Regions from separate parts of the Homo sapiens genome. Here all the other regions are reported to be linked to region 2. The links are microRNA targets in miRTarBase. Many come from high-throughput screens and were not tested one by one. Region 2 holds a microRNA gene; each other region holds the end of a gene's coding sequence.

Evidence for each region. Region 2 holds the annotated microRNA hsa-miR-4418 (CACUGCAGGACUCAGCAG, at 2,362-2,379, shown strand). A microRNA usually pairs through its seed, bases 2 to 8, with sites in the 3' UTR of a target mRNA and lowers its output. Matches are read on the target gene's strand: a 7mer-m8 pairs with bases 2 to 8, a 7mer-A1 pairs with bases 2 to 7 and ends in A, and an 8mer does both.
Region 1: miRTarBase lists NOA1 as a target of hsa-miR-4418. The part of its 3' UTR that is shown has no 7-base or 8-base seed match.
Region 3: miRTarBase lists TCERG1 as a target of hsa-miR-4418. Seed matches in the 3' UTR shown: 7mer-A1 at 5,217-5,223 and 7mer-A1 at 5,208-5,214.
Region 4: miRTarBase lists RNF38 as a target of hsa-miR-4418. Seed matches in the 3' UTR shown: 7mer-A1 at 2,020-2,026 and 7mer-m8 at 2,226-2,232.

The regions. Positions count from the first base shown.
Region 1 is chr4:56,957,620-56,964,742 of GRCh38, reverse strand. NOA1 (nitric oxide associated 1) reads left to right here. Exons shown (of 7, transcript NM_032313.4): 6 at 217-337; 7 at 1,082-1,393. The coding sequence ends at 1,293. Among named protein-coding and RNA genes, the nearest start is that of NOA1, 16 kb to the left of the region's middle.
Region 2 is chr1:22,263,916-22,271,038 of GRCh38, forward strand. It overlaps MIR4418 (microRNA 4418), which reads left to right and starts at 2,324; the gene lies at 2,324-2,385. RefSeq lists enhancers at 124-1,007, 1,008-1,890, 2,547-3,066.
Region 3 is chr5:146,509,753-146,516,875 of GRCh38, reverse strand. It overlaps TCERG1 (transcription elongation regulator 1), which reads right to left. Exons shown (of 23, transcript NM_001382548.1): 23 at 4,915-6,435. The coding sequence ends at 6,234. It overlaps GPR151 (G protein-coupled receptor 151), which reads left to right and starts at 686. Exons shown (of 1, transcript NM_194251.3): 1 at 686-3,732. The coding sequence starts at 763. The coding sequence ends at 2,022. RefSeq lists a silencer at 6,044-6,244.
Region 4 is chr9:36,333,246-36,340,368 of GRCh38, reverse strand. RNF38 (ring finger protein 38) reads left to right here. Exons shown (of 12, transcript NM_022781.5): 12 at 555-3,969. The coding sequence ends at 617. Among named protein-coding and RNA genes, the nearest start is that of RNF38, 63 kb to the left of the region's middle.

The DNA.
Region 1 (7,123 bases), not on the chromosome of region 2:
CCCAGAGCCCTGAGATTTGTAAGCTTCATCCCATCACAGAGTTCCCTTGCTTTTCATTTGACCCCAGAAGTGATTGCAAGTTCTTTTCAACAGTTGAATATTTGAAAGGATTTTATTCTTGATCCCTGTACAGAATTATCTTATCAGTGATTTGCTTAATGTTAGAGTTCCAAGAAATTTAATTTGAACTTGTAAATATCTTTATTTCATTGGAAGATTCCAATGGGTGGAAAAGAACGAATGGCAGGATTTCCTCCTCTTGTTGCTGAAGACATTATGTTAAAAGAAGGACTGGGGGCATCTGAAGCAGTGGCCGACATCAAGTTTTCCTCTGCAGGTAATTTTATGCCAAGCACTTTTTAAAAAGTGAATAAAAGGGCAGGCACGGTGGCTCACACCTGTAATCCCAGCACTTTGTGAGGCCGAGGTGGGCGGATCACCTGAGGTCGGGAGTTTGAGACCAACCTGACCAACATGGAGAAACCCCGTCTCTACTAAAAGTACAAAATTAGCCGGGCATGGTGGCGCATGCCTGTAATTCCAGCTACTCGGGAGGCTGAGGCAGGAGAATCGCTTGAACCCAGGAGGCGGAGGTTGCGGTGAGCCTAGATCATGCCATTGCACTCCAGCCTGGGCAACAAGAGCCAAACTCCATCTCAAAAAAAAAAAACAAAAAGTGAATAAAGCAGCCTTACCGACAATTTTTTTTATAGAAAAGTGCCTTAACTGATGAAAGCTGATTATTTTAAGGTGTACATACTAGTTTATTCATAAAATACAACCTATTCTGAAAATAAATTTGTACTTTGCACAAACGCATTGTATGCTTTTTTAAAACTAAGGTGTGTCCACCTGTGCCCCCAGCTTCTCGGGACGCCGAGGCAGTACGATCGCTTGAGCCCAGGAACTTGAGTTCAGCCTGGGTAACATAGCAAGACGCAGTTTCTTAAAAAATAATAAAATAATAAGAGAGTGAAAGAGAGTGACAGCGTTCTCTGATAGTCCATTTTCAGCTTTGGTTTGGTATTTTTAATAAGATGATTGCTAACAGCCTTTTGTGTTGTGTCACATGCCTGCATAGGTTGGGTTTCAGTAACACCTAATTTTAAGGACAGACTGCATCTCCGAGGCTATACACCTGAAGGAACAGTTTTGACCGTCCGGCCCCCTCTCTTGCCATATATTGTTAACATCAAAGGACAGCGCATCAAGAAAAGTGTGGCCTATAAAACCAAGAAGCCTCCTTCCCTTATGTACAACGTGAGGAAGAAGAAAGGAAAGATAAATGTATGAGACCGACCTTGTTCACTCCAGATATTAACTGTATTGAACACAACAAAATACATTGAATTTGTATTAAACATATAACGCATAAATAAAGCTCCCATTCTTACCCTTTTTTTCTTTTTTCTTTTTTTTTTTTTCTGAGACTGAGCCCTGCTCTGTTGCCCAGGTTGGAGTGCAGTGGCACGATCTTGGCTCACTGTAACCTCTACCTCCCAGGTTCAAGCAATCCTCCTGCCTCAGCCCCCCAGTAGCTGGGATTACAGGCATGCGCCACTATGCCCAGCTAAGTTTTGTATTTTTAGTAGAGATGGGGTTTCACCATGTTGGCCAGGCTGGTCTCGAACTCCTGACCTCAGGTGATCCATCCGCCTCAGCCTCCCAAAGTGCTGGGAATACAGGCGTGAGCCGCCGCGGCCAGCCTCACCCTTTTCAAAGCTCTTAACAGTTAACTTTTTTAAACTATTCAAGACTTATGTTCATAATGTATTCAGCTTATAAAAAGTTTTTTTTTTTGTATAGTATGTATATGGTATGTATCTGTGACCCACATATATATAAAATTGGAAGCCTGCTATATTCAAGTTTCTCCCACTACTGTTGTTTCTTTTTTTTTTTTTTTTTTTTTTTTTGAGACAGGGTCTTGCTCTGTCACCCAGGCTGAAGTACAGTGGTGCAATCTCGGCTCACTGCAAATTCCACCTCCTGGATTCAAGCAATTCTCATGCCTCAGCTTCCTGAGTAGCTAGGATAACAGGTATGCACCACCACCCCTGGCTAATTTTTGTATTTTTAGTAGAGACAAGTTCTCACCATGTTGTCCACCCACCTCGGTCTCCTAAAGTTCTGGGATTACAAGTGTGAGCCACCATGCCCCGCCTCACTACTGTTTTTTATATTGAGACCAGATGTCATTTCTCTTATTTGGAGTTAGCAGTCAGTATATGAAAAAATGGCAGGAAAATTAATTTCTCCAAAATTCATTGGCTTAAATAAGATAGAAGTGAGTAGGTGGCTCTGCTCCAAGGATCCAGCTGGTGGAACATTCCATGGCCATCTGTAGGTCTAAGGTGGCTGCCCAAGTTGTCATCCTTTTCCAGCAAGGGTAAAAAGGGGGAAAGTATGGAGAGCAAGCAACTTCCCTATTTAAAAGAAGGGAAGAAAAGCTGGATGTTGCACACATCAGTTTACATAGTCCACAGGTCAAGTCACATGGCCACACCCACCCATAAGGAAGCTGGGAAATGGAGGAGGAAATGGGAACCATTTGGGGTTTTTATTAAGGAAAAATGGGGAGAATGGATACTAGAGAACAAGTAGAAATTTACCTTACACAATTTGACAATGCCTGAAAATCTTAGATAAAAAAGGATTCAAGGCCAGATGTAGTGGCTCACACCTGTAATCCCAGCACTTTGGGAAGCCAAGGCAGGAGAATCGCTTGAGGCCAGGAGTTCAAGATCAGCCTGGTCAACATAGTGAGACCCCATCTCTATTATTTTTTTTAATAAAAATGAATTGTCGGCTGGACACAGTGGCTCAACGCCTGTAATCCCAGCACTCTGGGAGGCCAAGGCAAGTGGATCACCTGAGGTCAGGAGTTAGAGACTAGCCTGGACAACATGGTGAAACCCCATCTCTACTAAAAACACAAAAATTAGCCAGGCGTGGTGGGCACCTGTAATCCCAGCTACTCGGGAGGCTGAGGCAGGAGAATTGCACGAACCCAGGAGAAGGAAGTTGCAGTGAGCCGAGATCACACCACTGCACTCCAGCCTGGGCAACAAGAGCAAAACTTCATCCCAAAAAAACTAAATAAATAAAGATTTTTAAAAAGCTATGTATTTCTAGCAACTGAGGTCTATTCTGCAACTGAGAGGACACTTTAACCATTTTATTTACATTTCATCTTTATATGACTGAATAACATTACATCAATCAGAAGTCTTTATTGGCCAGGAGCAGTGGCTCATGCCTGTAATCCCAACATTTTGGGATGCCAAGGCAGGAGGATTGCTTGAGTTTAGGAGTTCAAGACCAGCCTGGGCAACACAGCAAGACCTCATCTCTACTAAAACCCAAAAAAATTAGCCAGGTGTGGCGCTGTGTGCCTGTAATCTCAGCTACTGGAGAGGCTGAGTCAGGAGGATCACTTGAGCCTGGGATATGGAGGCTGCAGTGAGCTATGATCACATTACTGCACTCCAGCCTGGGCAACAGAGCGAGACCCTGTCTGAAAAAAGGAAAAAAGAAAAAGTCTACACCTTTTGTTATTCCTAGCTGAGTAAGTAGTACCACAGCTGTGTCATGAAGAATTGGCAAGTCAAGTCCCAGATCCTAATGTTGAAATAAATGCTGGTAAGATAAGCTAGGCTGAAACGCAGTTAGAGCCATGAAATTCCTGAGAGGACCATGTTCTGTCCCAACATATGGGAGCCCCCATGTATTTCACACTCTCCTGTCTTCTCCCCACTCCTCAGTCCTCTTCTAAGTCCTCTTAGATTAAATATAATGGAGAATTTTTTAAGATGATGCAACTTGTTGTAGACCTTTCATAGTGTTTCAAAGTGAGTACTACTGGTATCTTGGGCAAGGTGGTTCTTTCTTTATATATAAAACTGCATTTCAGCCGGGCGCGGTGGCTCACGCCTGTAATCCCAGCACTTTGGAAGACCGAGGCGGGCGGATCATGAGATCAGGAGATTGAGACCATCCTGGCCAACAAGGTGAAACCCCGTCTCTACTAAAAATACAAAAATTAGCTGACTGCGCTGGCGCGTGCCTGTAGTCCCAGCTACTCCGGAGACTGGGGCAGGAAAATCCCTGGAACCTGGTAGGCGGAAGCTGCAGTGAGCCAAGATCGCGCCACTGCAGTCCAGCCTGGGCAACAGAGCAAGACTCCGTCTCAAAAAAAAACAAAAAAACTGCATTTCATTATGTCTGGTATCTCTCATCCCAGACACTAAATGCAGTAGCAACTCCCTCTGCTGTCAGTCCTGGTGACAACTGGAAAGTGCCCCCAACATCATATTACCTCTAGAGGGCGGCAGCTTCCCAAATGGAGAAAATTGATTGGCAGTTGATTTCTAGTTTTTATTTTGGAGGGAATGAAATACCATTTATTTTATAAGTTAAAATTGTGTCTGGGTGCGGTGGCTCACACCTGTAATCCAACACTTTGGGAGGCCAAGGTGGGTGGATCACCTGAGGTCGGGAGTTCGAGAGCAGCCTGACCAACATGGAGAAACCCCATCTCTACTAAAAAAAAAATACAAAATTAGCCAGGTGTGGTGGCACATGCCTGTAATCCCAGCTACTTGGGAGGCTGAGGCAGGAGAATCGCTTGAACCCGGGAGGCAGAGGTTGCGATGAGCTAAGACCGTGCCATTGCACTCCAGCCTGGGCACAAGAGCAAAACTCCATCTCAAAAAAAAAAAAAAAAATTATGGTCATTATATTTCTACCTATGGTTGAAAACAGGAGTTCACAGTTCAGAGCTTAGGCCAGGATATTTAGGTAGAATTAAAACAAAAAACAGGCAGGAAAGAAAGCCAGCAAAGGGTGAACTGGGCCTTTGTGGAGAAACAATCTAAAAACTGACTACTATCACCCTGACAACTTAAGAAAATGTATTTCAGAAAACAGGGCTCACACCCATAATCCAAACACTTTGGGAGGCCAAGGCAGGAGGATCCCTTGAAGCCAGGCATTCAAGACCAGCCCTGGCAACATAGTTAAGACCCTGTCTCTACAAAAAAAAAAATTTAATTTAGCTGGGCATGGTGACACCCACCTGTAGTCTCAGCTATTCAGGAGGCTGAGGTGGGAAGATCCCTTGAGCCTGGGAGGTTGAGGCTGCAGTAAGCCATGATTGCACCACTGCACTCCAGCCTGGGTGACAGAGCAAGACTCCATCTCAAAAAAAAAAAAAGCAGGAAAGAAAGCCAGCAAAAAGAGTGAGAAAGATGCTCTATGCCTAGAATTAGTTGAGGACTTCTACTGGGATCTGGTATTAATTTATTCCATATTGTGCCTCCAATTTAATGCAGCCTAGGATCACTGCTAGGATCAAGTGTTTCCTAGTAGATTTTCCTTTAAGAAAGTTCCATTACTGTATTGGTGCAGTAGTGCATTGCTTAGCAACAGGGATGTGTTCTAAGAAATGCATCGTTAGGCAATTTCATCTTTGGACAAACATCATAAAGTGTATTTACACAAACCTAGATGGTATAGCCTACTCTACACCTAGGCTGTATGGTATAGCCTATGGCTCCTAGGCTACAAACCTGTACAACATGTTGCTGTACTGAATTCTGTAGGCAATTGTAACACAAATCATTAGGCAATAGGTATTTTCTGACTCCATTATAATTTTACCAGACTACGGCTGTATATGTGGCCCATTGCTGACCAAGAAGTCATTATGCGATACATGACTGTACTTCTTTATCCATTAATCTGAATATAACGACATCTTTTGAATCAGTAGTCACTTACACTATGACAGGGTACAAGAATTAGTGGGCTCTTCTGGCCAGGAACGGGAGGAGAAATTAAGGGCAAAGTACCAACTCCTCACTTCCACAGATCACAGAGGTGGTTAGGGGTTGCTAGAAAACAATGAAGCAAGTTTATTCTAGATTGTTTACCTGGCTCTGCAGCACTGTGGTGTTGAGCATGTCACCTCTTTTGTATTCATGACACCCAAAAGAAGTAAAATAAATTCCATCAAAGTACTTTTTGACTTTTATGTGATATTAGGTTCAAAGTTTTATTTTAAAAAGTTACACGTAATCCCTCTGCTTTTCCCCCCTCTAATTAAACTAAAATAACAACATCTTCTTCAAAGTTACTAAGACAAATTAAAGTTGTAATATGTTTTGTATCTTTAATCACCATAAATGCCAAGCTGTGCCGATCACTAAGTCTTTACTGTATAGTTCCCCAGAGTCTAGTTTATTTAACTTGAGACACTCACTTCCCATAACAACCAAGGAGAAGCGGAGTAGAGATGCAATCTTGTGTGCCTGTGTCTCTAGTGTTCAGACTCTTCTTGCACAATGGACATAGGCTGGTTTCCTGCAGCTGACTAACATGGAGGAGCTCCAGCTGTGTCAGCCATGACAGAGTTGTTATTGCTTCACTGAGTAAGCACCCAGCGCGCAAGCTGAGGCGGGCTGTTTCATAGACGGGCTCGGATCATTTACCCTGGCTTCCCTCCCACTTGGCTCTGTGTCGTGGAGCATTAGAATCATTTCCATTCTTTCTCAGCTGTTCCATTTTCTTTTGGCCACTTTCCTCCTCCCAGGGGGATTGTTTTCTCTCAATTGTCAAAGAGTAATGCTTAAACATTAAAAACAAGATTTCAGACTCGTGAATCAAATCGATGACACCTCTGCCTGCTCTGAATGTCTCTCTGTCATATTATCTGCCCCCATTAAGACCTTGTCGTGAGAGGGGAATGGTTCAAGATAGGTTTTTTTGTTTTTTGTTTTGTTGTTGTTGTTTTATTTTTTCAGAGACAGGGTCTCACTCGGCTGCCCAGGCTGGAGTGTAGTGGTGTAATCACAGCTCAACGCAGCCTTGACCTCCTGGGCTCAAGTGATACTCCCGCCTCAGCCACCCGAGTAGCTGGAACTATAGGCAGGTGCCACCACACCCAGCTAAATTTTTTATTTTTGTAGAGACAGGGTCTCACTTTGTTGCCCAGGCTGGTCTCAAACTCCTAGCTTCACCAATCCTCCCACCTCAGCCTCCCAAAGTGCTGGGATTACAGGTGTGAGCCACCACACCAGGCCAAGATTACTATTTTAACATCATATTGCAGTGATGCCTCACC
Region 2 (7,123 bases):
CCACCGAGTCCTTCCTTCAGTCCTCGACATGGAGCTTCTAGAATGTGCCAGGCTCTTCACTGGGTGGTGGTGGTGGGGTGGGGGTGTCCAGAGACAAAAATGATACAGTTGTGCTTTGGAGAACAGTGTGTGTGTGCATGTGTGTGTGTACACACGCGCTTGTGCAGATAGAGGGATGTAAGAGTGGTGTGGGCAGTGTGCCGATGATCACAGTGGTGCTGGCACCATACAGGAGGATGGTGCTGCGGGGGAGGGTGGTGGTCTTGAAGTTAGTGGCGGTGGTCTTAGGGATGGTGCTGGTGACAGTGGTGCTGGTGACAGTAAAGACGTGTGAGACAGCAGCAGCCCTCCCTCTCTCGACCCTGAGGGCCACAACCAGCCCCCACCTGGCCATGGCAGCTCCTTCTAGGCCCCACCTCTTCCTTCTGGGGTCAGCCCTTCTGAGGCCTCAGTGAGCCCAGGCTCCTAGGAACAGCAGGCCAGAGAGGGTACATGTCTGGCTCAAGGCAGAAGCAAGGGAGAGACGGATCCAGGTGCCTCGTCCAGACCTCTGCATTACCCTCCCCCAACCCCTTTTTCACATTCTATAAGCATTTCCTGGGCCTGTGCTCGGGGTCAGGCCCTGCACTGGCATCTGCACTAGGTATTGGCGGCATCACTGTGCCTCCTGCTCTCAGAGACCTCCATCTAGACAGGAGGGAGACACTCAGCCAGGCCAGGATAACACAGAGACCAGGACGGGCAGAGGGCGGTGGCAGCCCCAGCCTAGAAGTGGCAAGGACATCGGACTGAGGCTTTGAAGGATGTGGAGGAGTTTACTCACTGGGGAAGTAAGCGCAGACGGCCCTGCAAGTGGAAAGGCCTGGAGGTTTGAAAGGTGGCATGTTTTCGGGAAACAGAGGCTGGAGTCGGGCTGGAAGAGGCTGAAAAAGAGAGTGGGGTGGGGCCAGGTCGCTGTTGCAGCACAGGCAACTTAGAGGCTGTCCCACCCTGACGGGCATCCCCTCTGCTCCCTAGCCCCCACCCCCATACCAAACCCCTCCTGGGGATCACAGTACCACCCCTCCCCCCAAATAACTGGAATTGTTTGAAAATACCCAGCAAGAATTCAGCTCAGCAGGTTATACTGGTCAGGGGAAGCAGCTGATTGGGGGTCTGGGGGTGGGGGAGGACTCAGTGGGACTTCCTGGGAGAAGGTGAGAGGTCCTGACCTTAGGCCAGGGCCAGCGCCCCTGTGAGCACTGATCCAGGAGCAGATTACAAGGGAGACTGGAGCCAAATCCGCTTTGAAAAAGAGCTGGTGGAGTTTAACTCCCGCTCAGTGAGGTCACCTGGAAAAGCTCCTTCCCTGCCTGGGAGCCGGGTGTAGAGTTGGGGTGAGGGGGATGTGGGGCCAGAGCAGAGTTCTGGTAAGGAGCTCTGTGTGTGTGTGTGTGTGTGTGTGTGTGTGTGTGTGTGTGTGTGCGCGCCAGGGTGTATGTGCATGTATGTGTATATTTGGGGATGCATGTATGAGGACGTATGTGTATATCTGGGGATGTGCATGTGTGTGTGTATTTGTGTGTGAGCGTATCTGTGTGGTGTGCGTCTGTGTTTGTTAGTAGATAGTGCATTTGTGTCTCTGCCTGTTGGCCTCGCGATTCATCCATGGTTACCGTACTGACACCTGTGTGTGTGTGCGTGTGTGTGTCGTGTCCACCCCTGCACACACATGCACACTTCTGCGCAGCTTTTTCATGTCTGCTTCCATACATTTCCCTTTCCTGCTTCTCTCCACCCTTCCTTCCCAATCCTCAGCCCCACCACTATGCCAACATTCCTTCATTCATTCCTTCAAAAAATGTTTCTCGAGGGTCTGCTTTGTGCCAGGCACTGTTCTAGGCTCCAAGCATGAACGGGAGATAAGAAGGCGGGAGAGGCTTCTACTTTCATAGAAGCGTGTGTCCTCTGTGATGAGGTAGACATTAAACAGACAAGCCATTAGTAATATGGCACATAGTGACGCATGCTAGGGAACGAAATTCAGCAGCGTGAGGGGAAAAGGAGGGCTGTGTTACATGGCCTCTCAGGGAGGGCCACTGAGAAGATACCTGAGCAGAGACCTGAAGGATGAGAGGCTGGAGATGTCATTCTCTGGAGGCAGGGTGCCCAGGCTGAGGACGCAGCTAGTCAAAGGTCCCTAGGTGGGAGCATGCTTGGGGGGTTCTAGGGACGGCAAAGGGGCCAGTGTGGCTGGAGTGGACAGGTGAGGGGGAGGGTGGGAGGAGAGGAGTCAGCAGAGCCTCTGTGTCACCCAGGGGCCTGGGGGGCCTCCTGGGGGCTTTGGTTTTTGCTCTGAGTGACCGTGGTGGTTGTGGGAGTCACTGCAGGACTCAGCAGGAATTCTGGATAGTAAGTGGGAGGTGGGGGACCAGTGAGGAGGCTGTCGCCAGAACCCACTGAGACGTGGTGGTGGCTTGGGAACAGAGGGCAGAGCAGGGGAGGCGGGGGAGGCCCCATCTCAGATAAGTTGAGTGGGACGTCAGGGATTTGATGACCCAAGCCTGGAGTGGAAGATGTAAACCTGGGGGCCATTAGCAGTCCAGGGGCATGAGCCCAGTTCCCCTGGGAGCCACATCGCTCATTTGCTTGGCTGTGTGGCTTCTTGTGTGTGCAAAGCTTCAACGCCCCTCCCCTCTAGAGCCTTAGGAGAGGCCCCAGGGGTCAGCTGAGGTGGGGCCGAGCCGAACTAAGGGGCAGTGCCAGCAGTTGATTCAGGGCACCTGGGTGTTGGCATCAGACAGACCTTGGCTTGCATCTTCCTGTGACCTTGGACAAGTTCTTAACCACCCTGAGCCCCATCGTCTCATCTGTAAAGTGGAGATAATAGGAGTATCTCCCAGGCGGGCTGCTTGTGAGGGTTGAATGAGATGGTGCCTGTGTGGGACTGAGATGACACACAGCCCCCTTATTATTCATATTGACCATGAGCTATGGTGGCCCCTGGCAGGGCTTAGGAGAGGGGTATTTACTATGTGCCTGGTCCCTCTACGGTTGATAAACTTGATAAACGGGGAACCTGGAGCTCATCAAAGAGGCCAAGTGACTTGCCCAAGGCCACAAGGAAAGGGTGAAGCTGTCATTGGAACTGACTTCTAACCATGCTCCCCACAGCTTCAAGCTGCCGCTGCACAGGAAGCTCCAGGTAGGCGGAAGGAGTTGGGGTCTGAAGACTGACTCACCTGTCCAGGAACCTCTGCCCAGGGGTGTAAGGACTGCCGTGGTGCAGCCTCATGGCATCCCCCATTCCCCCTGCAACAGGGCCCTGGGTGTTCATTTCAATCCGATTTTTCTTTTCTTTTTTTTTTTTTTTTTGAGATGGAGTCTTGCTCTGTCACCCAGGCTGGAGTGCAGTGGCGCCATCTTGGCTCATGGCAAGCTCCGCCTCCCGGTTCAAGCATCAGTCCAATTTTTCTAAAGCAAATGTTGGCTTCTGGGGAGAAGGTGTGGCCGGACAATTTCCAGGAGCACATGGCCCTAGGCATACTGACCCTTTGAGATGGCCTTAGTTTGGGCAGGGATGCTGCAGGTGGTCAAAGCTGGACCTCCCGCCCAATGGAAGGTGTTGGGTGGCTGGCCCCCAGCTGTGTGGCGTGTGCATCGCTGGGCCTGAGTGTGTGCGTGTGTGTGTGCATGTGTGTGTGTGCATGCGTGTGTGTGCATGCGTGTGTGTGTGTGTGCGTTGTTGGGGTGGGAGTGGGAAGTCAGACCTGTGTGGCAAAAACCTGAGTCTAGTGGAAGGCCTCCCCTGCCCCTACCCACCCTCCTCCCTGGCCGAGGGGGCTGAACCGTGGCTGGAGGGAGCCACGTCAGGCTGGGATCTCCGAGGGGTCCTTGAACCACATCTGAGCTCTGGGAAGGCTCCCCGGTGCATGGAAAGCAGAGAGGGAGGCTCCGTGGTGATTTACAGGCACCTCCTTTTGATCGTCTCGCTCCCTTGGAGAGATCCCTCCTCCGCACCTGGGGGCTGCAGGGGAGGGGGGGCGCAGGGGGTTCTCAGCTGGCCCAGGGCAGCAGGGTCTGGTGTCCCTGGGATACAGGAAGCTTCCTTCTCTCTGGCATGGCCTTGCTGGTACCTGGCTGCTTGTGCATATCACTGAGCAACCCAGCTCCTGTCCAGCGGGGCGGGGTCCAGAGCACACCCCTGGCGCTCGGGGCTGGGCCTGCCTCCCCACACCTGGCTCTGCTTCCATTCTTCCAGGGACAATGCGACTGTTTCACTGGCCTTGTCTTCTGCCTAGACCCACGGGGTTTATTCTTCCTGCCTCCCTGCCTGACATTCCTGGACTCCACTCCAGGCGTTTGAAAGCCCTGGATGTCCCAACAATTTCAATTTTTTTCCCTGGTCCTAAGGGGCCAAGAAGCCCAGCTTTCAGGCAGGGTCTAGGCATGGCCTATGGGGTGGTCAGCAGTGGGCAGGTGCAGATGCAAAGGAGGGCAGAGGTTGCTGAGGCTGTGGATGGCCTTGTGACAGGTCCCGAAAGGGCACCTGAGCTAGGACGCCCAGGCGGGACTGCGAGGGAGGTGGCCACTCTGGGGCAGGGTGGGGACAGCCCTCAGGACTCCTCGGGCCTGAACGTCTTTGGGAGGAACTCTAGCATGTCCAGGGCAGGGCGGGGGTGCCTGGGAAAGCGGAGTGAGGGAGCCCCCGGCAGGCTTGTGTCAAGGCAGGGACAGGTGCCTTCCTCAGGGCCCAAGTGACTGGTTTTACCTCCTCTCTCACCGTCAAGTCCATGGGTGGGAGTGGAGGCGGAGGAAGTAGGGGATGAGCAGGGGAGTTGCCAGACCAGAGACAGCTTGAACCCAGAGTCCACTGACGGGTTGTGGGGCTGAGAAAGGAGAGACGGGGATAGGAACAGCACGGAGTGCCAGCAGGAGGCCAGAGTGGCAGGGACAGGAGTGGAGTGACCTTGGGGGTGATGGGGTGGAGCTGTGTGCTGGGCGCCCTGTCTATCCACCCCACCATCTGGGGCCTCAGGGGCCCGGGGCCACCATCTGATTGTGGTCATTGTGGTCCTGGTCATTGCTTTCACCCCTCCTTGCCCCTCTCTCATCTCCTGCCCAAAGCCTTCTTCCTCCACAGAGCTTAAGGTTTACTTATTGAAATTAGCCCGTCTTTTTCTTCATGGCTTCTGGGTTTTGTAACACGCTGAGGAAGGGCTTCCCTACCCAAGATTCTGAAAATGTTTCCTTTTAGCGCTCACCGTTCTCTTCTCTTCTTTCTGTCCTCTGCCTGTTCCTGCCCCACTTCCCATGATTATCATGCTTTTGTTTGTTTGTTTTTTGAAGGAGTCTCCCACTGTTGCCCGGGCTGGAGTATAGTGGCGCAATCACAATCTCGCAATCTCGGCTCACTGCAACCTCCACCTCCTGGGTTCAAATGATTCTCCTGCCTCAGCCTCCCGAGTAGCTGGGATTACAGGTGCCCGCCACCAGGCCGGGTTAAGTTTTTGTATTTTTAGTAGAGACCGGGTTTCACTATGTTGGCCAGGCTGGTCTTGAACTCCTGACCTTGTGATCAACCGCCTCAGCCTCCCAAAGTGCTGGGATTACAGGTATGAGCCACCGCGTCTGGCCTGTTTGTGGGATTACAGGCATGAGCCATCTGTTTGTTGTTTCTCATCTCCCACTGGCAGAGAGGTTCCTTGAATATGCCCAGCACTTAGATAGTGCGTGGTGTATGGGAGGTGAGCAATACATCATATTGCATGTGGGACCAGGATGTGTGCCCAGGTCCCAGACCCAAGACGGAGAAGGTGTTTAGCAGAGAAATTGTTCTGTGGCTGTGCAAATTGAGGCTGATAGCAGCAATCCCAGAACGCATCTGTTGAGTACTTACCTGTACATTCAGGTAAATCACCTGCCCCAGCCCAGTCTCCTGCTCCCTCCCCGAACATTCTCCCCTTACCTGTCCAGGGGCCTCTGCTCCAAGTGGGCGGGCCTCCTCTAGCCTGGAGTCCCTTCTGTCACCTCTCCTCACAGCCCACACACTCCCCCATAGCTCCCCACTAATCTCTCTCCTCCCTAACTAGGGGTGGATGCAGGAACGTTGGCATCCATTCAGCAAAGGCCTGTTGGGTTCTAGTGGTGCTCAGAGCTGGGGTGCAGTGATGGGGGAGCCATGTTCCCTCCAGAGCTTCACAGAAGGCAGGCGACATACTCCACTCTTCCCACCATAACTACCATCCAGCCCACTGAAGACCACCATGAGGGTAAGGGTCCTCTATCCGGGATGCTGGCTGGACATCCTCTCTGGAAAGATGCAGTTTTATTTCTCACAACTCACATGTCATTGGTCCCAAAATTATTGCTTATGAATTCACTTGTATAGAAGTAGCCATTAATTTTCATTATAATTGGTGGAGAGAAGCGGCAGGGTTTCTATGAAGGGATAAGAAAGTTCAGCCTTGACCGGGCGTGGTGGCTCATGCCTGTAATCCCAACACTTTGGGAGGCCGAGGTGTGTGGATCACCTGAGGTCAGGAGTTCAAGATCAACCTGGCCAACATGGCAAAACCCCGTCTCTACTAAAAATACAAAAATTAGCTGGGGATGGTGGTGAGTGCCTATAATCCCAACTACTGAGGAGGCTGAGGCAGGAGAATTGCTTGAACCTGGGAGGCAGAGGTTGTAGTGAGCCGAGATTGTGCCACTGCACTCCAGCCTGGGCGACAGAGTGAGACTCCATCTCAAAAAAAAAAAAAAAAAAAGTAAGTTCAGCCTCAAGCTACTAATCTGTAAAATGAGAGCATAATTATATATCACAGAGCTCCATAAACGCTTTCATCACGCTAATAAAATGAAACGTTCCTGAAGTAACATCAGGGCTCATGGTTTCACCAGTTGTTCCGTGGCCGTGCAAATTGAGGCTGATAACTGTGAACCCAGAACACATTTGTCCAGCAATTACTGGTGCTTACAGGGGTGCAGAGGCAGACCCCACGGCACTGGGACCCTTCGGATGTGGGCTGAGGAGAAGGCATCAAAGAAGGCATCAAAGACTCCCAGATGTCTGGCCTGCACACTGGGGGATGGGGGGCAGTGGTGGTGACAAATCAAAGCCGGAGAAAAGGCCCAGTGACAG
Region 3 (7,123 bases), not on the chromosome of region 2:
GTAATAGAATAAACTGAGAGTCATCCATAATTAGATTTTTTTAATAGGACTTCTAACTTGTTTTCATTATCCAGCTGTGTTTGAACTCAGCCAGCTGTTGATGGAACTGAGGTGGTTGTAAGGGTTGGGGAAAAGAAGAGGAAGCTCATCTCTGCAGAGTGGGTAGGGGAAGCTTTAGTTCTCAGTTTAAAACAGTGGTTCTCAAAGTGTGGTCTCCCAACCTGCAGCATCAGAGTCTCATGGGAACTTGTTAGAAATGATTTCTTGGGCCCTACTCCAGACCCACTGGATCCGGCCATCAGGTGAAGTTCAAAGAACTTGGTTCAGATGTAGTGTTCACTAAATTACAGACAGCAGTCAAGATTTTAGGAAGAGCTGGTTGAAAATAATTGCCTTGACTGGCTCTAGTGACCCCCCAAGGAACACATGCCACTTACATGTATGTTCTCTTCATTCATCATTTATGGGTATATTTGTATTACTCCACAGGGCTGACGATTTGGTATTAGACTTGCTAATGAGCAGCAGCCATGTGCTCCTGCTATCTGACAGTCGGTACAGTCACAAGTATATTGTATGCAGCAGAGAAGAGCTTAACAGCCAGCCTCCTTCCACATTCTGCTCTCAGGAAATAAGCAAGGGGAGGATCCAGAAGTGTCATTTGACACTGACGACAGAGTACTTATTTCCTATGCAAAAGAGCCCAGGCAGAAAGACAAACCTAAATAAGAATCTAACTTCTGTAAGAAGCTGTGAAGAGTGATGCTGGCAGCTGCCTTTGCAGACTCTAACTCCAGCAGCATGAATGTGTCCTTTGCTCACCTCCACTTTGCCGGAGGGTACCTGCCCTCTGATTCCCAGGACTGGAGAACCATCATCCCGGCTCTCTTGGTGGCTGTCTGCCTGGTGGGCTTCGTGGGAAACCTGTGTGTGATTGGCATCCTCCTTCACAATGCTTGGAAAGGAAAGCCATCCATGATCCACTCCCTGATTCTGAATCTCAGCCTGGCTGATCTCTCCCTCCTGCTGTTTTCTGCACCTATCCGAGCTACGGCGTACTCCAAAAGTGTTTGGGATCTAGGCTGGTTTGTCTGCAAGTCCTCTGACTGGTTTATCCACACATGCATGGCAGCCAAGAGCCTGACAATCGTTGTGGTGGCCAAAGTATGCTTCATGTATGCAAGTGACCCAGCCAAGCAAGTGAGTATCCACAACTACACCATCTGGTCAGTGCTGGTGGCCATCTGGACTGTGGCTAGCCTGTTACCCCTGCCGGAATGGTTCTTTAGCACCATCAGGCATCATGAAGGTGTGGAAATGTGCCTCGTGGATGTACCAGCTGTGGCTGAAGAGTTTATGTCGATGTTTGGTAAGCTCTACCCACTCCTGGCATTTGGCCTTCCATTATTTTTTGCCAGCTTTTATTTCTGGAGAGCTTATGACCAATGTAAAAAACGAGGAACTAAGACTCAAAATCTTAGAAACCAGATACGCTCAAAGCAAGTCACAGTGATGCTGCTGAGCATTGCCATCATCTCTGCTCTCTTGTGGCTCCCCGAATGGGTAGCTTGGCTGTGGGTATGGCATCTGAAGGCTGCAGGCCCGGCCCCACCACAAGGTTTCATAGCCCTGTCTCAAGTCTTGATGTTTTCCATCTCTTCAGCAAATCCTCTCATTTTTCTTGTGATGTCGGAAGAGTTCAGGGAAGGCTTGAAAGGTGTATGGAAATGGATGATAACCAAAAAACCTCCAACTGTCTCAGAGTCTCAGGAAACACCAGCTGGCAACTCAGAGGGTCTTCCTGACAAGGTTCCATCTCCAGAATCCCCAGCATCCATACCAGAAAAAGAGAAACCCAGCTCTCCCTCCTCTGGCAAAGGGAAAACTGAGAAGGCAGAGATTCCCATCCTTCCTGACGTAGAGCAGTTTTGGCATGAGAGGGACACAGTCCCTTCTGTACAGGACAATGACCCTATCCCCTGGGAACATGAAGATCAAGAGACAGGGGAAGGTGTTAAATAGATTTAAGTTTCAAAGCAAAACAAACTGTGATTATTGTATTTACTTGTACTGCTGCTTATCAATATTGCTGACTTTACAAACTGATATAATTATTACCATTAGGAATTATAAAAATATTTCACAATCTACACTTTCCAAATGTGCAATGTGGTAAGTAGAGAACCATGTTAGAAGTAATAATTGTTTCAGAATTAGAACTTGGCTTCCCAAACAATTTAAGTGTTGTGTAAAGATGTTGCTGTCAAAGTGATTAGACAGCCTGGCTATTCTGTCATTTGTTCACAGTGGTTTTACTGGGTACCCCCTAGGACCAGCCCTGTAGTGGACCGGCTGGAGCCTGCAGTAGAGGTTCTGTCAAAGCTGAGCCCCTTTACCTTCAGTTTCACCCAGGACCTGCTAGTCCTAATTTTACCTACTAAATTGTATTTCACATAACCAAAGCTCAAAATCTACTTTCACTTGAGATTTTTAACACATTAATGATAAATTTTAATGCGTTCTTCATTTACTTAATAAGTGTTAATTTACTTGATGAAAAGTCCGTATCATAATGTTCATGACTGAAGGTCAAAGAAAAAGAAACAGCACCTTATTCCAATTCTGGACTCATTTCAAGCCATGGCTGGTTCTGGCCAAGTTTAAATAAATTCAAACTTAAACTAAAGCCTGCTTCAGTGAACTTTTTAAAGCTACCTGAATGAGTCTTCAGTTTCTAAGTCTAAGAATTGTAGCAGCTTTCCAATGACATTCAGTAGTCTGATATGGGGGAAAAAATACTTAAAAAAATGTCCTCTCTTCACTTCCAAAATGTGGGAAAGTTATTTTTCTATAAGCAGAAATGTGTTCCTCCTAATATCTCCTTTCTCCCAAGATAAACCATGGTTAATGATATAGGTATAGATTACTCCTCAAATACAAATAGAAGATGGAGATGGTGATCTTTCTTGTTAATGGTACTAAACTTACCCTTACTCAGAACATTGAACTTGAACCCTACTCAACTTTTAAAATACTATAGGCTAAGTTATAAAAATAATCTAGCAACCTGAGAAAGAGATTAATATCAAAAAGAGAAAATTCAACAAACCAAGACAGAATTTGGTTAAGAATACAAAATAAAAAGCATAAGGGCAATGCAGAAAGCAGTAAAACTGTGTACCCAGACATACGGTAAAATCTGAGTAACAGGCAATAACCATTCATTTTATAGCAAGGTAAAACATACCCAATAAAACATGATTATGATATATTTCTGCCCCTTTTAAGTATAATGACATTCACCCATGATTCTTGATTACTTTGTTATGGAACTCGGGTATTTTCACTGAAAGTTTCCCTCAGAATAGAAATGCCTTTAGGGCAAACCAAGCCATGGAGAATCTGAAATATAAAGGATATGTTATGGAAAAAAAAAGATTTTGCTTTTTGTCTATGGGTTTCCGGATTCTTTGCTTTTTCATAAGTGGTCATAGTTTGCTTTTTAACACAGGAGGTAGGGCTGTATTCTTTTTACATCCTTCATTACAAATTTTATTTGAAGCTCATGTATTCAAATAAAGTAAAATTTAACCCAAGAATCCAAAATATTGTCTTGTGATATGGTAGTTATAAAAAGGATTATCATTGTCTGTGATTATTTGAATAAATAATTTTTATGTTCATTATATGTAGTAAATTTAGGATGTAAGCTTCCAGGGTTTGACACTTTAAACTTGTAAAGAAATAAAAATAATTACGCTTTACTTCCGATAGTTTTTGGAGATTTAAAGCTGTCTTTGTCTTGAATTATCATTCCAAAATCATTATTAGGAACAATGGAGCTTTATGGGGCTGTTTGACCTTAACACTGGAACAGGTCTCAAGGTGAACTGATTTTCAGAGTTTGCTAACAAGCACCAAATCAAGATGCAGACACTGGAACAAAGAGTAATTACAATGAACCTTTCATTAAGAACCTGATACACAAAGTTAAGTCCCGACTTGATCCCTTAAAAAATCTGCTTAGAGAAGTTTGATTTGTATCTTATCTGATCAAACCCAGATACTTTAAGACAAAAGTAGGAAATTAGAACAGATATCACCAAACTGTTTTCTTCTCACTTCTCTACTGTGAGAAACAACGTAGTAAGTGGGCAAACAATATTATGTGGAATTCAGAATAACAAAATAAGGCATTCTGGAAACTTTACCCTTGTGAGACAGTCGTATTTCTACATACTACATAATAGTTGTGCTCCTTTTGGCAAGCACTTCAATTTCATTCCTCACAGTACTTAAAAATCACTCAATGAACTTATAAAATGAACTTCAAAGAAAGAAAAAAAAGGAAACAGAAGGCGGCCAGGTGTGGCGGTTGACGCCTGTAATCCTAGCACTTTGGGTGGCCGAGGTGGGAGAATGGCTTGAGGCTAGGAGTTTGAGGCCAGCCTGGGCAACAGAGTGAAACCATTTCCAAAAAAATTTTAAAAAGAAAAAAAAAAAAGCCAGACATGGTAATGCATGCCTGCAGTCTCAGCTACTCAGAAGGATCACTGAAACCAGGAGTTCAAAGTTACAGTGAGCTATGATGGCACCACTGCACCCCAGCCTAGGAGACAGAGTAAGATCCTTTGTACGCATAAAAAGAAAAAACATATCCTGTTTATCAACTTTACAGCTGAAGACCTTAGTCTGATCAATGCCAGGTTCCTACATAAAGAGTTCACAAAATTTCCATGGCACTTAATAGATTTAAGCTATGAACTATATAACATGGATGTGAATGTGTGTGTCTGTGACTGTATGCACACAACATACAAATACAGATCTGTTGGTATTCCTTCTTTCTAGGATTTGTTACAATCATAGTCGGTATGAGATAATGGAAAATAAATTATTCTATTAACATATATATTTTGTTAAACATTTTATTTATGTGGCACTCTGAAACGAGCAACCTATGAAGGCATAAAATAAAAAGATTTTTTTTTAACTCGGGAGGTAAAGCTAGATATATCAATTAGGAACTGATTCATGGTGTGATGTACACGACATGTTGAAAGAATGCCAAAAAGGCGCAAACCATCATACATTAATACAAAGGACAAAAACAAAAAAAACCCCAGCATCTTCTTGCTATGAGGCAATAAGGCACTGCTAAGAGACTTGAGCACCAAAATGATTCTCTACAAATTCCTTCCTTTTTATACTGCAAATACTGCATTATTATATTCAAACCTTTAAAAACTAGGTAATACTTAAGATTTAGAGTCAACTTACTTTGTGGGAAATTCTATTTGCTGCTTTTAAAAACAGGTTAAAATAAGCTCTTAAAAATTAAGTAACAATAATCATATACAATACAGATATATAAAAAGGGTTGGTTTATTGTAGTTCAAATACATAAACTGAACATTCAAACATCTTAAAATTAAACTTTAGCAACAAAGTTTAACATTCAAACAGGAGTATAGTTTACAAGAAACACCCAGAAAGGTAATTTGTTGTCTAATCCAGAATATTGATAAAGATCACTTAATGGTGAATAAAATATGTTTAACCAGTGGTTCTATTCTGGCCAACATGTTAGTTATGACCGTGGTTCCATACCTGAGAAGAAATTACTACATAAATCTTCTCTTAGGCTAAACAACAAGACTCGGTCTATAATTCAGAGGGGATAATCAAAGCACGTAAGTGAACAAATAAAACTAATCTGATCTTTAGAGACAAAGGTAAAAGTATTGTCCATTATAATAATTGTAGCCTCTGGAAGATAAGAATTCAATTTTCAGTGTTTTCTCTTTTACCCGCTTTAAAAAAAAAAAATCAAAACAAAACAAACCCCAACTCGGGTTTTCTTGGAGTCTGTGGTATTTGCATCTGGCAAGTTCAAGCCACAAATGCTCTTACTTCTTGCATGTATTAACACTGCTAGGAAGAACGTCACCAAGTCACTGACTTCCACACCTCATAAAAGGATGAATTTTAGCTTCAAGATTTTAAGATTTACTAGAGACAGCCTATATTTGAGTATGTATGTCAGTCATGCCACACAAAGAAAAGCATAAATATTTCCAAAGTGTTCTGTTCAGAAACTGTTCACAAATGCTTCTCCTTCTGTTTGTCAGATGGTTTCGCAATAGGTTGACTAATGCACATATATGTAAAAACCTGAAAATTGGCTCATGCAAGCATTTTGAATAGATGCCCCTATGGAAGAGTATTTAGAATTATTTTGTTGATCGTCTCGTGGGCTCCGATGCTGTGGGAGGTGGGGGTGGACCCCGGCGATCCAGGTCATCAACATATGCCACAATCAGTTTACGCCTCTCCTCTGGCACACAGTCCAGTACTAGATACCGTTTGTCATTCTGTAAAATTTTTTCTACATCTTTCAGGTGCTGATCTGATTCTTGGATTAATTTTTTGGATCTGAAATAAGAAAAAGAAGTCCAAGAATTACTGACTGCTGTTCACAGGTCTTTCAGAAATGAGCTGGAAATGTCCATCTAGTTCCTAATTGTGTTTCCATTTTTTTTTTTTTTTTTTTTTTTAAGAAAAATTTCACGGCAGTGGTCACCTTTGTAAGTCGCCTCAGCAAAGACTCCAAGGAGTGAAAGGGCCTCAGAAGCTGAATTACCCTCCCACCCCTAGTGGTGGTCCCTCCAGATCAGGGCTGAGGGTGGGTGGGTAAATCTTGCCCGTGCTGTACCTGTTCTGTGGATGAACAGAGGACTTCAGTCTGCGGGGCTGCCAATCCCAGCATCTTTCACAAGCTTTCACTTTCACATCTTTCACTAAATTAACTATAAAAATGTAGAAAGAAGTCTTACTTCACATCTAATTTAAAAGCCCAAGCTGATGCAAAACATTAAGGATCCTGACCAAAAAATCCAAATGACAAAATATCTAAAAACCACACCCTCAGCACTATCTAGCCTCCCGTGCACATACCCTTTATTAAGATGTTTCAAATTTCTCTCTTAAAGAAGAAAAGCTGGAGCATGAAACAAAAATGGTTTCCTGCATACTGACTGGTAAGCAATGCGAAATTGTTTTCCTGATGATAAATTGTTAGGGGTGAAGAACTGTTGGGTTTGCTACAGAGAAATCTTGTTTA
Region 4 (7,123 bases), not on the chromosome of region 2:
ACTTTAATGTCAGTTGTTAACTTGGTCCAAACTGGTCAATGGTAATCTTGTTTATATATTTTAACAGACCTACTAAAAATCATTCATGGCGGCCAGGCGCAGTGGCTCACGCCTGTAATCCCAGCACCTTGGGAGGCCATGGTGGGTGGATCACCCGAGGTCAGGAGTTTGAGACCAGCCTGACCAACATGGTGAAACCCCGTCTCTACTAAAATACAAAAATTAGCCAGGCATGGTGGTGGGCACCTGTAATCTCAGCTGCTCGGGAGGCTGAGACGGGAGAATCGCTTGAACCCAGGAGGCAGTGGTTGCAGTGAGTTGAGATCGTGCCATTGCACTCCAGCCTGGGCAACAAGAGCGAAACTCCATCTCAAAAAAAAAATTCCTGGGCTAATTCGGAGGTTTATGGGTTAAAAAAAGGCAAAAATTGCTTTGTACCTCTTCAGAGGAAGAAAGAATGTAAAAACTGTGGGAAGTAAAAGTAGTTCCATTGCTTTGAATGTGTTTCATTGTATGTGTCACAATTTAAACAAGTTTTCCTTTTTGTTTTGTAGGCAAATCGTACTTGCCCAATTTGCCGAGCTGATGCTTCAGAAGTGCATCGGGATTCAGAATGACCAACCTAAGAAGCACAAATTTAGTTTGGGTGTTCCTCATCACATGTATATACGGACTATCCATTGAACTTAATCTGTGTGGCTTCCAGCCCTCCCTTTACCAAAAGGGTCAATGGACCTTTCTTTGCACTGTGTGACTTAATCAACTATAAAAGCTTACAATTAGTCTTCACAGTTATGGGATTGTTATACTAACCGTGTGATTGGAACTCCAAAGACTTTTTCTTTAGCTTAATTTTGTGTGTGCACTAACATTCCCTGGTTTTTGTGTGATCATTCCGAGTGTTGCTGCAAGATTACAGTGGACGTGATCTTTTAGCATGTGCTTTTATAAAAAGTGGTAGCTACAGATGATATAGCAATCTACCTTATATAGAGCCTTCAGAAACTGTGAGTGGAAATGAATGCGCAGCGTATGACTGTTGGTGATAAGTGTATCTGTGTGAGTGTGTGCAACTACTTGTGTGAGGGCATGGTAGCTAACGTGTGTATGAGATCCTATATACCAGCATGTACCAAGAATGTGTGTGTAGTTTTAATTATGCTGCAATGTATAATCTGGTGTGTTATTTAAACAGCACTAGTACTGTACACTGGTTTTTTTCCCTTGTGTTTGCTGTTGCACACTGATTGCTGAGGGTGCATCAATTACAAGCATTGAATACTCCATCCCCTTCCCTCCCAGTGAATGGAATGAGAAAAGCCTTCTTCCTTTGCTTCAGGCAGCTGTCACCTTCTCTTTATTGGTGGTCCTAAGTGGGTCACTTAAGAAAAAAAAGTGTAACAAATTCTCGCTCCATGAACCTGGTTTTTTTTTATTCTGTTGTGGAAATTTTTAAATCTCCAACTTGCTGTTTCCAAAAAGAAGGTGCAATATCATATATCATCAGTTAGCAATATTAGCATTTCAATCAGTGATTTGAATGTTGATACTTTTTTTTCCTTTACATTTCCAGTAAGTTTCTTACAGAAAGTACCTGTGATTTTTTTTAATGTTTAGATTTGTAGTCTAGTCTATTCTGAAGATATTTGATTAATATATTTCTAAGAAGACCACTAGTCCCATGAAGTCTCACCTTGTTGACTTCCACCAGAACAAAACCTGTTAATTCAGCTTGACTTCTCATATGTGTTCTGTGTTCAAGCTCCTGTGGGCAACTCAATTGTTTTAAGAAAACTCTATTTCTGTTCATATTAATTCACTTGCCAGACTCCAATTCTGAAAGTTGTCTAGTTCTTCCTTCATCACACGTGCTTCTCATCGAAACCCTGGTTTCAGGATGGATCAAGTGCTGTTACAGCTCATGTTCCTTAGACCTGATTTGTTTTGATATTTTACTGCCTTTCCTTTTAATTTTTGTTTGAATGAGAAAAGTTTAATACAACAGGTGTCCAGAATACTTGCAGTATAAATGAAGATTTGGTTTTTGTATAAAAAAATAATGCTGTTAAACAGGAGTTGACCTTCATTTAGTTGATGTAATACATAGCTGTATGGGGTTTTTTTTAGTAAGTTCTTTGAGCATAATTCACTTTAAAGTCATTTTTCCAGCAATGTTTAAATTACTTTCTCATTCTTTTAGTGTATTCAACATTGTCTGCCTCTTCCTGCAGTTGATGTAATTGCTTTGTTTGCAATAGCACAAGCTGCATTATTCCAGTCAGGACTGTGATAACTTGCTGCCAGCCCCACTCAACTTTCAGTTGGCTCTGTGTCAGTTTTCCATTCAGTGTTAACTACTTGTTACTGCCATGCTGCTTGCCCTCCCTTGAAGTGTCTATAAGCTCATCACAGCCTAGAGTTAAGTAAAGTCAATTCACAGAAGCACAATTTTGCCCTTTGCGAGACATTGTTGCCTCTATCTAGTCCTACAAGTAGGGTTTTGCATACTGTGTTTGCCCCTAGGGTTGTCAGTGCATCAGAAATACTTCTAAATAGTGGTAAAAATGCACATGGTTAATGCACATGTTACTTTTAAATCATTAGGATATCCCTCACCTGTTCCTGATGAATAAAAAGTGTGTTAAAGACCAAAATTCTTGGCATAATAATCAGCTACATACAAATCACATATAGTTTAATCTTTTTTAATGAAAAAAAATCATGTTTAAAATGGCAAAAGCCCATCTTATACACTTTTATATAGCTGCAAAAAATTTATATCTGTACAGATCTAACACTACGACACTCAGTATTCATTTTATTGAAGCATGCAAGTAAAGCACTTTTTCTAATTTATATAGAGGTATCTAATTAACACAGCACATTGTACTAATGACTAGGAGTAGCAGCTTTTTCTTCTCTCCCTCTATGAATTCTTATAATGTCCCTTTTTCTGTAAGTTTTTGAGAGGCAATTGGCAATTTAGGAGGCAGCAGGGTCTGTTTTGGTCAAATCTTGAATTTCGTTGTTGCACTCTAGTGACTGATCTTTGGGAATGTCTTGTCTTTGCATGGGGCTCATAGAGATGTGTGCAGACTTGCTTATTGTGGTTAGTGTGTATCAGGAACACACACACAGGTGTTCTGACCAGCTCAGGCTTGCCACAGTGAGCAACTCTGTGGCTAGCAAAAGAGAAGTTTATTTGTGCCCAGCCATTGGTCACCTTGGGTGATGCACCAGATAGCAGGCAGATGTTGGTTCATTGGCCTTCGTCCTCTTTCCTCCTAAAATAATATTGGCTTTACCATCTTAACTCAGCTGTGGGTTTTTTGTGGGTTCTTGTTTGTTTTTTGGCATGAATTGTCATCTTTGGTGTTTTTTTAACCCCCAGCCCCTCAAAAAAATAAGGCCTCCAGGTATCAAGATCTCATATTAGGATTTTCTGTCCTTAATTTTTTGAGCAAAATCTGGAAAATGTGAAAGCATATTTAGATTTTATATACTATCTGAAATGTGATTTGTTAAGATTCTTAAATTTGGGCCTCTTAGAATAATTTTGAATGAGATCTACCGACTCACTTGTGAGAATATTTTTCACAGATTATCTTTGGGCCTTTTCATTAGAAAGCTGTTTGTTTGTCCCCCTGTTGGTACATTTGGTTACCTCATTTTGCCGTTTCAGATTGTGAAAGCTCACAGGGGTGTTTTTTGGAATCATTTGCTGAGTCATTTTCTCAAATCATATTCCATTGTATCAGTTAACATATAGTTTTAAATGTATGTATTATAAATATCTGTAACCAAATCATTTGAAGGCTTGATAAATTTTTAACAAAGTTTGTACATTTTTTATGAAAGTTACTAGTAATGCTTTACTAAGTAGTGCAATGAATTTTTATTTTTAATCCCTGTGCCCAATTTTGGAGTTGAGAGGGTTGTTGGTAATAAATGTATGATGTACACTTAAAACATCTGTTGTGTTTCATGTCACTGTGTTAGGGATGGGGAAGGGTTGTATATGCATGGGGATGGAGAGATAGATAGCAGCAGGAAGATAGAGCTGGGTTGAATTACTGGCTGCCAGATTCTGTATTTCTGCATTTGTGTAAACAACTTAGAAATGCAAAAGTAACTAGCGTTGTAACATATGGTACATATTTATATATTTTATATATATATATATATATATATTTTTTTTTTTTTTTTTTTTTGAGACAGAATCTCACTCTGTCACCCATGCTGGGGTGCTCAATCTCAGCTCACTGTAACCTCTGCAGCCCTGGTTCAAGCGATTCTCCTGCCTCAGTCTCCCAAGTAGCTGGGATCCCGCCACTGTGCCTGGCTAATTTTTGTATTTTTAGTAGAGACAGGGTTTCACCATTTTGGCCAGGCTGGTCTTGAACTCCTGACCTCGTGATCCACCCACCTCAGCCTCCCAAAGTGCTGGGATTATAGGCGTGAGCCACCGCGCCCGGCCATATTTATATTTTTATAAAGGCCAAGAACATAGCAGAAAGAGTATAGCCAAACATGGTATATGCATATTGAACAGTAGAGATACATAAGTAGAGCCTGGCAACATAGTGAGACCCCCATCTCTACAAAAATGTTTTAAAAATTAGCTGGGCCTGGTGGCGCACACCTATAGTCCTAGCTACTTAGAAGTCTGAGGTTGGAGGATCACTTGAGCCCAGGAATTTGAGGTTACAGTGAGCTATATTTGTGCCACTGCACTCCAGCCTGGGCAATAGCAAGAAGACCCTGTCTCTTCAGGAAAAATAAAAAATAAAAGGCTGGGTGTGGTGGCTCACACCTGTAGTCCTGGCACTTTGGGAGGCTGAGTTGGGCGGATCATGAGGTCAGGAGTTCAAGACCAGCCTGGCCAACCTGGTGAAACCCTGTCTCACTAAAAATACAAAAATTAGCCAGGCATGGTGGCACATGTCTGTAATCCCAGCTACTTGGGAGGCTGAGGCGGGAGAATCACTTGAACCAGGGAGGCGTAGGTTGCGGTGAGCCAAGATCGTGCCACTGCACTCCAGCCTGGGTGACAGCAAGACTCCATCTTGGGAAGGCGGTAAAAAAAAAAAAAAGATAACGTAGGTAACTAGAATTCAACTAGAGTTCTTTCTACAAGACTGCAATAGACAACTATTTAGATTTGTCCACATTAGCTACAGTTTATATACAACTTACTGTCAACATAATATGGAAGGAGGAGCCTCTGCTTGTCATTTTCCATATATGTTTGTATAATAGTTTTCCTTTGACTAAAAAAGGAAGGAAATATAAACAATCTACATAGGCTTTGTTAATTAAGATTTTACCCTCTTGACTGGCTCCAGTACTCCTCTGACAGAAGTGACCACATCCTGATTTTATTCCCTCCTTTTTCCAACATACGTAGAAGAGTACTTGTGTTTAACTTTGAATGTTTCAAGAAACCCAAAACTTAACACCATGTCTTATGACAGAGGCATTTACTGCTAAGTACCCATGCACTATCCCAAGTCACCCTACTTACATAAGTCATGGAGGGGCATGGTTCTGGCCAAGGGCCTGTAAGCATAGGCTATGTGGCCTTTCCATGCAGAAGCATATATAAAAGCCAGCTCTCTTCGTCTGCTTGGGTAGTGGCGGCCTGAGTCACTCCCTAGAAAAGAGTTGTGTTTTTTGTTTTGTTTTGTTTTTTTCCCCTGCTCTGTCCCCCAGGCTGGAGTGCAGTGACGTGATCTCGGCTCACGGCAACCTCTGTCTCCTGGGTTCAAGTGATTCTCCTGCTTCAGCCTCCCGAGTAGCTGGGATTCAAAGTATGTGCCACAACACCCATCTAATTTTTGTATTTTTAGTAAAGACGGGGTTTTGCCATGTTGGCCAGGCTGGTCTCAAACTCCTGACCTCAGGTGATTCACCCGCCTCAGCCTCCCAAAGTGCTGGGGTTACAGGCATGAGCCACTGCGCCTGGCCGGGAGGATGAGATTCTTATGAATGGGATCACATCACACAGCCAATGTTTCAGCTCTCTTGTACACTTTAATGAACTGGATGAACAAGGCCGTTCAATAAAGTGTAATTAGCCACATGATTTTAAATTTTGTGAGCCACATTAAAAACAGTTGAAATTATTTTTAATATTCAGTCCAATATGCCAAAATATTTCTACTGTAATATTAAGATACTTTATATTTTCTCATACCAAGTCTTTGAAATCCAGTGTGTATGTTACATTGATGATGCATCTCAGTTTGGACCAGCCACATTTCAAATGCTCAGTAGCCACACGTGCATAGTGGCCAAGTTAGATGGCACAGGTCTAGACCAGAACTATGCAGAGTTAACCTGGTTTCTAAAGAGTTGAACGTTACTCGTGAGATCCCAAGATGACTTTCTATTATTGTATGCCTTAACAAACTACAGTATGATTTTAAAACATTTTATTCTATATATAGTTGAATGTAACTTTTGTTGCTACAATACATTAGAAAATACTCATTTTTAAAGCAGTCTTAATTTCTCTGAAGCTGCCATAGATTCAAGAACAAAGCTCCTTGTTTGTCAGTAAATCTTCAGATATATTTGCTTGAATTCACAGCTATTTAAAATAATTGGGCCAGGCACAGTGGCTCCCGTCTGTAATCCCAGTACTTTGGAGGCCAAGGTGGGTGGATCACTTGAGGCCAGGAGTTCAAGACCAGCCTAGCCAACATGGTGAAACCCCATCTCTACTAAACATACAAAAAAAAAAAAAAAGGGCTGGGCATGGTGGCTCACGCCTGTAATCCCAACACTTTGGGAGGCCAAGGCAGGCGGATCATGCGGTCAAGAGATCGAGACCATCCTGGCAAACATGGTGAAACCCTGTCTCTACTAAAAATATAAAAATTTGCTGGGTGTGGTGGCGCATGTCTGTAGTCCCAGCTACTTGGGAGGCTGAGGCAGGAGAATCATTTGAACCCAGGAGGTAGAGGTTGCAGTGAGCTGAGATCGCACCACTGCACTCCAGCCTGGTGACCCAGCGAGACTCCATCTCAAAAAAAAGAAAAAGCCGGGCGAGGTAGCAGATGCCTACTGTAATCCCAGCTACTCGGGAGGCTGAGGCAGGAGAATCACTTGAACCCAGGAG